2 linked regions of the Homo sapiens genome follow. The protein of the gene in region 2 purifies or fractionates together with the protein of the main gene of each other region. This does not show direct contact. Each region holds a gene or a part of one and is shown on either strand. Other genes may lie near its edges.

What was found.
Region 1: the proteins of SUCLA2 (region 2) and ZNF146 purify together in Homo sapiens (affinity purification with mass spectrometry; 2 studies listed by BioGRID and IntAct, with this or other methods). This does not show direct contact.

The regions. Positions count from the first base shown.
Region 1 is NC_000019.10:36,217,974-36,221,723, forward strand, and holds part of ZNF146 (zinc finger protein OZF), read left to right. Parts: intron 1-148; 5' UTR 149-222; intron 223-3,750.
Region 2 is NC_000013.11:47,994,577-47,998,326, reverse strand, and holds part of SUCLA2 (succinate--CoA ligase [ADP-forming] subunit beta, mitochondrial precursor), read left to right. Parts: intron 1-1,303; coding exon 1,304-1,484; intron 1,485-3,750. UniProt on the Homo sapiens protein: ATP-specific succinyl-CoA synthetase functions in the citric acid cycle (TCA), coupling the hydrolysis of succinyl-CoA to the synthesis of ATP and thus represents the only step of substrate-level phosphorylation in the TCA.

The DNA of each region.
Region 1 (3,750 bases), on a different chromosome or scaffold from region 2:
TTTGTATTTTTAGTAGAGACGGGGTTTCACCATGGTGACCAGGCTGGTCTCGAACTCCTGACCTCATGTGATCTGCCTGCCTCAGCCTCCCAAAGTACTGGGATTACAGGCATGAGCTAATTTTTTTTTTTTTTTTTTTAAATTAAAGGAAGACATAGGCCAAGGAGCCAGACTTCCTGTGTTAACTCCTTCCTCTGCCACTTTTTACCTTGGGGACCTCAGGTAGGTACTTAAACCTTGGGCCTCAGTTGCTCATTTCATAGTATAGAAATAATAGCAATATTTGATTCAAAGGGTGGTTGTGTAGCTCCAGAAGTTAATACATGTAAAGTTCTAAGAATAGTCCCCAGTGTGTAGTAAGTACTTGATTAATGTTAAATACTAGTACTTTTTATTACTAGCTGCAAAAAAAATGCTTCCTCAGAAAATATTATAGTCCTGTGTCTGGTAGGAATTTCTGAAAGAATAAGATATGTAGATGCACTTTTGTTATTAATATTTCTTTTTTTTTTTTGATGGAGTCTCACTGTCGCCCAGGCTGCAGTGCAGTGGCCTGATCTCGGCTCACTGCAGGCTCTGCCTCCCTGGTTCATGCCATTCTCCCGCCTCAGCCTCCTGAGTAGCTGGGACTACAGGTGCCAGCCACCACGCCTGGCTAATTTTGTTTTTGTATTTTTAGTAGAGATGGGGTTTCACCGCGTTAGCCAGGATGGTCTGGATCTCCTGACCTTGTGATCCACCTGCCTCAGCCTCCCAAAGTCCTGGCATTACAGGCGTGAGCCACTGCGCCCGGCCTAATATTTCTATATTTTAATTTTTTTACTTAAAATTTTCTTTTTTTTTGGTGGAGGGGGGGACAGAGTCTCGGTTTGTCGCCCAGGCTGGAGTGCAGTGGTGCTATCTTGGCTCACTGCAAGCTTCACCTCCCAGGTTCACGCCATTCTCCAGCCTTAGCCTCCCAAGTAGCTGGGACTACGGGCGCCCACCACCACGTCCGGCTAATTTTTTGTATTTTTAGTAGAGACGGGATTTCACCGTGTTAGCCAGGATGGTCTCCATCTCCTGACCTCGTGATCCGCCCACCTCGGCCTCCCAAAGTGCTGGGATTACAGGCGTGAGCCACTGCGCCTGGCCACTTAAAATTTTCTGTGGATATTTCCTTTTTTAACTGGAATCAGGAAGTTAGGTTTGTTTTTTGATTTTTGAGATGGGGTCTCACTCTGGCTCAGGCTGGGTGCACTGGTGCGATCACATCTCATTGCAGCCTCCACCTCCTGGGCTGAAGAGATCCTCCCACCTCAGCCCCACCCCCGCAGTGGTTGGGACTACAGGTGTGTGCCACCACGACCTGCTAATTTTTAAACCTTTTTTTGTAGAGATGGAGTCTTACTATGTTGCCCAGGCTGGAAGTTAGATTTCTGTGTTTGAGTTATGTTTATCTTTAGAAAGTCATCATTATCCGCTCCTTTGGAAGATTTGTTCTTTGATTTCTATGATTACTTTTGCATGGTTCTAATTCAGAATCTCTGATGATTTTTTTTTTAATTCTAATTGTGATTGATTTTTGGCCAGAATACATCAGAGGTGATCTTACATACTTCAAATTGCATACCATTAGGAGAGATATACCAGATGGCTGGTGATTGTTACTTCCCTTTGACCAAAATGTTATGTTTACTTTGGTTCATTCTCCATCAGTCATTTAGTGGATGGTTTTAAAACCAATACATAATTCTTGGCTGGATGAGTAAATTTCTACAGGTATTGTAAAGTGATGATTTTCTGTTTTTTTTGTTGTTGTTGTTTGTTTGTTTTGTGTAAAAATGTAGTAGTCTATACGTTAAGAGAAACTTCTGGGAACAAACTAGAAATGATCCCTGGAAGTATAGTCTTAATTTCTCTTGTCTTTTCATTCCTTTTACATTTGTTTCATTGTTACATCAAATTGTATCTTTTTTTCCCCCTGGCTTTTTCTTTCTTAAACATCATCCTAAAGTTGTGTATATTTAGCGTGTTCTAGAATCAGCTGCACTTTTTGATGCCAGTGGATACCCCTTCAGGTCATTCTTGTCTCATTTTGGCTGACATCATTGATCTTGGAAAGTTTTCCTGCACTGCAGGCTTGTATCTTCCTCCCAGACTTGGAATTGACCATTTCTCCAAGGAGCTCTGGTTCCTTTTATTGGAGAATGGTATTAGAGACAAGATCAAGGGTGTGCTCATTGCCCAGGGGTAACATTGTTTTAAGGCCATTTTAAATTGCAGAGCATTTAAAAAATACATTTTTAATGTATTTTTAAAAATCATGAGTCCATATTCGTATTTCTAATTCACTTTAAATGGTATAGTATTTTTACCTAATTTCTTAGCTCCTAGTTCTTTTTTTTAATTTAATTTTATTTTATTTTTGAGACGGAGTCTTGCTCTGTCGCCCAGGCTGGAGTGCAGTGGCACGATCTCAGCTCACTGCAATCTCCGCCTCCTGGGTTCAAGTGATTCTCCTGCTTCAGCCTCCCGAGTAGCTGGGACTACAGGTGCATGCCACCACGCCCAGCTAAGTTTTTGTATTTTTAGTAGAGATGGGGTTTCACCGTGTTAGCCAGGATGGTCTCGATCTCCTAACCTCAGGTGATCTGCCCACCTTGGCCTCCCAAAGCGCTGGGATTACAGGCGTGAGCCACGGCGCCCGGCCTCCTAGTTGTATTTTATAGTAAAAAATATGAAACAAGTTATAAGTACTTATTTTGTTTGCTTTATCCTGCAATATAAAGAAAATGGTTTCAGTAACAATGCTGATACTAGTAGTAACCATAAACATACTGTATCATGTTAAAAAATTCTTTCTTTAATATATGTAACTATTTTTGTTCTTAAAATGCATCTTTTTTTTTTTTTTGAGATGTTGTCTTACTCTTTTGCCCAGGGCAGAGTGCAGTGGTGTGATCTTGGCTCACTTGCAACATCTGCCTCCCCAGTTCCAGCGATTCTCCTGCCTCAGCCTCCTGAGTAGCTGGGATTACAGGTGCCCACCATGACGCCTAGCTAATTTTTGTATTTCTAGTAGAGACAGCGTTTCACCATGTTGGCCAGGCTGGTCTCGAACTCCTGACTTCCTACTCGTCTTGGCCTCCCAAAGTGCTGGGATTTCAGGCATGAGCCACTGAGCCCAGCTTTTAAAATGCATCTCACTAAAGATGTATGTAGTCAAAGAACTCTGTTCTAAAGTCATTTGAAATCGTTTTTCTGAGGAATTATGTTACTAAATTAACATACAGTTGGGTTCATTTGTTGTTTTCAGGTTAAGGGACTGCTTTTTTTTTTTTTTTTTTTTTTGAGACGGAGTCTCACTCTGTCCCCTAGGCTGGAGTGCAGTGGCGCAATCTCGGCTCACTGCAAGCTCCGCCTCCCGGGTTCACGCCATTCTTCTGCCTCAGCCTCCCGAGTAGCTGGGACTATAGGTGTCAGCCACCACGCCCGGCTAATTTTTTGTATTTTTAGTAGAGACGAGGTTTCACCATGTTAGCCAGGATGATCTTGATCTCCTGACCTCGTGATCCACCCGCATCAGCCTCCCAAAGTACTGGGATTACAGGCTTGAGCCACCGTGCCTGGCCAAGGCACTACTTTTTAAAAAATGAATTTGATTACTATTGAAGTAAGTAATGCATTTCTGTGATTCAACAAAGATCTATCTCACAGAGATATCTCATTCTGCTCCCTTCCCCCAGTCACATTCTTCTTTGTCTTATG
Region 2 (3,750 bases):
GGGTTTTTTTTTCTTTTTTTTTTTTTTTTTAACTTATTTATTTGTTTTTTTAGACAGGGTCTTGCTCTGTTGACCAAGCTGGAGGACAGTGGTGAAATCACAGCTCACTGCAGTCTCAAACTCCTGAGCTGAAGGGATCCTCCTGCCTCAGTCTCAGGAGTAGCTGGGATTATAGGTGTAAGCCACTGTGCCCAGCTTGGTTGCTGGCTTTTAATATTGAAGTGACACTAAATCAAGGAATTGAGCTACCTAGGTCAAATGTTACCAAGGATTTTAGCTTGCTAAATGGATCAGAAATAAGTTGCTATTATATATGATTGATTTGTAAGACTAGTAGTTCTCATAACTGTAGGGTTCTTAAGAATCAACTGAGTGACTTGTTATGAATGCAGATTTCCTTGGGCCCAGTCCAGAGATTCTAATAGTGCAGTTGAGAATGGGTCTCAGGAATCTGCAGATTACAAGCACCCAGTTAATTTTGAGGCAAAAGCTTATGAACCTACTTTAAGAAACAGATTGTTTCTATGACCTCTTTAAATTTAATTCTTAGGACACTGTGTGTTTCATATGAACCATGTTTCAGTATACTGCATTCTGTATTGAGATTATGGAAATGCGTGGATAACATTTAAATGTGTGATTCCATTGACCAGTCATTGGGTGCAGGCTGACAGTGGGAAGGAGGTGTGACTTTGGGCAAGTAGGCTCCAGTAAGAGGACTTGGCTGAGAGCTGTCAGCAACCAGCACTCCCAGCAGCAGCAGTGGGGGCTATGAATGCCTTGGTCCTGAATGGGGAGTGCCAGGGAGATCTGGGCAGCATACTGCAACATCCACTACAGATGAAGCCATGGTTTTGAATATCGAGTGTATGAAAGAGTAATGGTATCAAATCATTTTATTATTACATATCTAGTGCCAGGTGACTTGTTAGGTGTGGAGGAATGGTAGAGAGAAGAAAATTGGGAAGGATTTTTGGTTTGGTGGAAAAGATGAGATTGGTTTTAGATCCGCTGAATTTGGCATTGAGGTAGAACTGCCCTGTAGATCATTGGAGATATGATAGTAAAGCTGAAATCTGAAATAAGGAATAGAGATGATGAGGAAATAATTAAAATGACAGTGGTAACAGTGATATTTAGCTGATAGGCTAGCTTTTAGTTTTATGCTGTAATTCAGGTACTCTGAATATTGTACTTTGCTAATGTAATGTAACAGTTTTGTTATAGTTATGAAGAACCAAGTAGTTAGCAAGAGTGACTGCCAAATCACTGTCATATATAAATATGTCCCCAATCTTTCTAGGTTCTGGGAAGTTCTGGATTGTTTAATAACCATGGACTCCAAGTACAGCAGCAACAGCAAAGGAATCTCTCACTACATGAATACATGAGTATGGAATTATTGCAAGAAGCTGGTGTCTCCGTTCCCAAAGGATATGTGGCAAAGTCACCAGATGAAGCTTATGCAATTGCCAAAAAATTAGGTACTAAATTAAGAAAAGCTTTTGCCACCTTGACATGAGAGCTCTGAGAAGATTTGAAGTTTGTTTTTGGTTTGATAACAACTTTTAGCTTTTTTTTAAAAAAAATACATTTTCTTTGCTTAAAATAGAAGGTAGAACTTTATTATTATTGAAATTCTAAAATTATTATTATTATTATTATTATGAGCACCCATAATGCCAGTGACGTGGGAGTCACTTACATTGGCATTAGGAAGCTGAAGTCCTGTTTTTAGTTGGAATATAATTATGGGGAAGGGAATTCTACTACTACCACTCTAACTACTCTGGAGCTTAAAGGATGGCAGTTGTGATGATTCTTCAGGGAAATGGTGAAGGAAAATCTTAGCTGTTTATGTGCTTATAAGGAGAGGTCCGTGCTTCCCCCTCCATTTTTTTGTCATGAAAAATATGGAACCAAAGGGGAACAAAAAGTAGAGTGCTAGAATGTAAACTCCTTGAGAGCAGAGTTTCTTTTTCTTTTCTTTTTTTTTTTTTTTTGAGACGGAGTTTCATTCTTATTGCCCAGGTTGGAGTGCAATGGTGCAATCCTGGCTCACTGCAACCTCCGCTTCCCGGGTTCAAGGGATTCTCCTGCCTCAGCCTCCCGAGTACCTGGTATTACAAGCACCACCACCATGTCCGGCTAATTTTTTTGTATTTTTAGTAGAGACGGGTTTTCACTATGTTGGCCAGGCTGGTCTTGAACTCCTGACCTCGTGATCTGCCCGCCTCCGCCTCCCAAAGTGCTGGGATTACAGGTGTGAGCCACCACATACAGCCCGAGTTTCTTTTTCTTATTTGTTCACTGATATATCCCAAAATCTTAGAAGAATGCCTGACACTTAGGTAATCAATAAATACTAAATGAATAAATATTAAATGAATTTAATAGTTGCCCATGTTTATTAGCAGATTCCTTTATTGATAACAGAAGCCTTAATAGCTTTTGTCAATTTGAATTAATCTCTTAATCAAAAAATAATTTTTGATTTCAGAAAATAAGCTTACATTTTTAAAGATTTAGCATGAAAACCATGAGCTGATGTACTAGCTATACACTGCAGTTTCTTTTTAGCAGTATTTTAAATCCCACCAATTTTACGTAGATTAGCATAAATAATCTCTCTTCTATGTACATTTAATTAATAGGCTTTAAATATGATTTGGTGAATACTTTGCTTTTATATTTTTTAAGAAAGATGAGCATTTTCAAAGTGATTGAAATTTTAAAAGTATTCATCTTGTGTAGTACTTATTTGTATCTAGAATGGATTTTTCTTTCAAAATTAAGGATATATACAAGTTCAGAAAACTGTCATATAAGCTATGTTTTTGAATGAGATGGCCATGATTTCCTTGACTTGGAAGCATGATTTTTCATTTATAGTTTTGTTGTTTTTATTGTTGTTAATCAGAAAGAATTATTTTAAATCAGATTACAAGCAAACTTTTTATTAAGCAAAAGCTTTGTATAAGTTCATACTAATTGTGGTGAAATTTTTGTTAATGGTGACCTATAATTGGAACTTCTGCATGGTTAATGTTAATGGGACCTGATTTATATATAATTACGTCGGTAAAAATGGTTTTCCTCTTGTTTCCAGATTTTAAAATTCCAAAAAAAAATTTTTTTTAGAGATAGGGTCACTATGTTGCCCAGGCTAGTCTGAAACTCCTGGGCTCAAGTGATCCTCCTACTTAGGCCTCTGAGTAGCTGGAACTACAGGCACATGCCACTGTGTCTATTTTTTGAGTATTATAATTGGTTTCTTTAACTAGTTTTCCGTATATTTTCTCATTTAGTGAAATTCCATTGTTTTGTCAGAAAAAATAATTTGCATAGAAACTTTTTCATAAAATGAATAGGATTAATTCAGATGCCAATCTGTTTTGATTATGCCTTATAAAAACTTAATGATTCTTAGGTACAGAAGAAAGAAATAATATGTGCAGGATAAACTGTAACTATGAGTATTTCTGGCAAGTTCTCTGGGACCAGAACTCACAAGTAATAAGAAGCAGGTAGGCAGCTCTGATTTTGAGCCCCTTGGAACAGATACCTTGTTCATTTAGAAAGTGTGTTTTTTGTCAAAGAATATTGCAAATGATGATTATAGTGTGGGAGGGAGACTAATAATTAACAAGGAAATTTAAATCTAGAGGAGCAGAAATGCTAGTTTTTAAAAGATAAATTTAGAAACGTCTATGAAAATATGGAGGACAATTTCGTGGTTTTTTTTTTTTT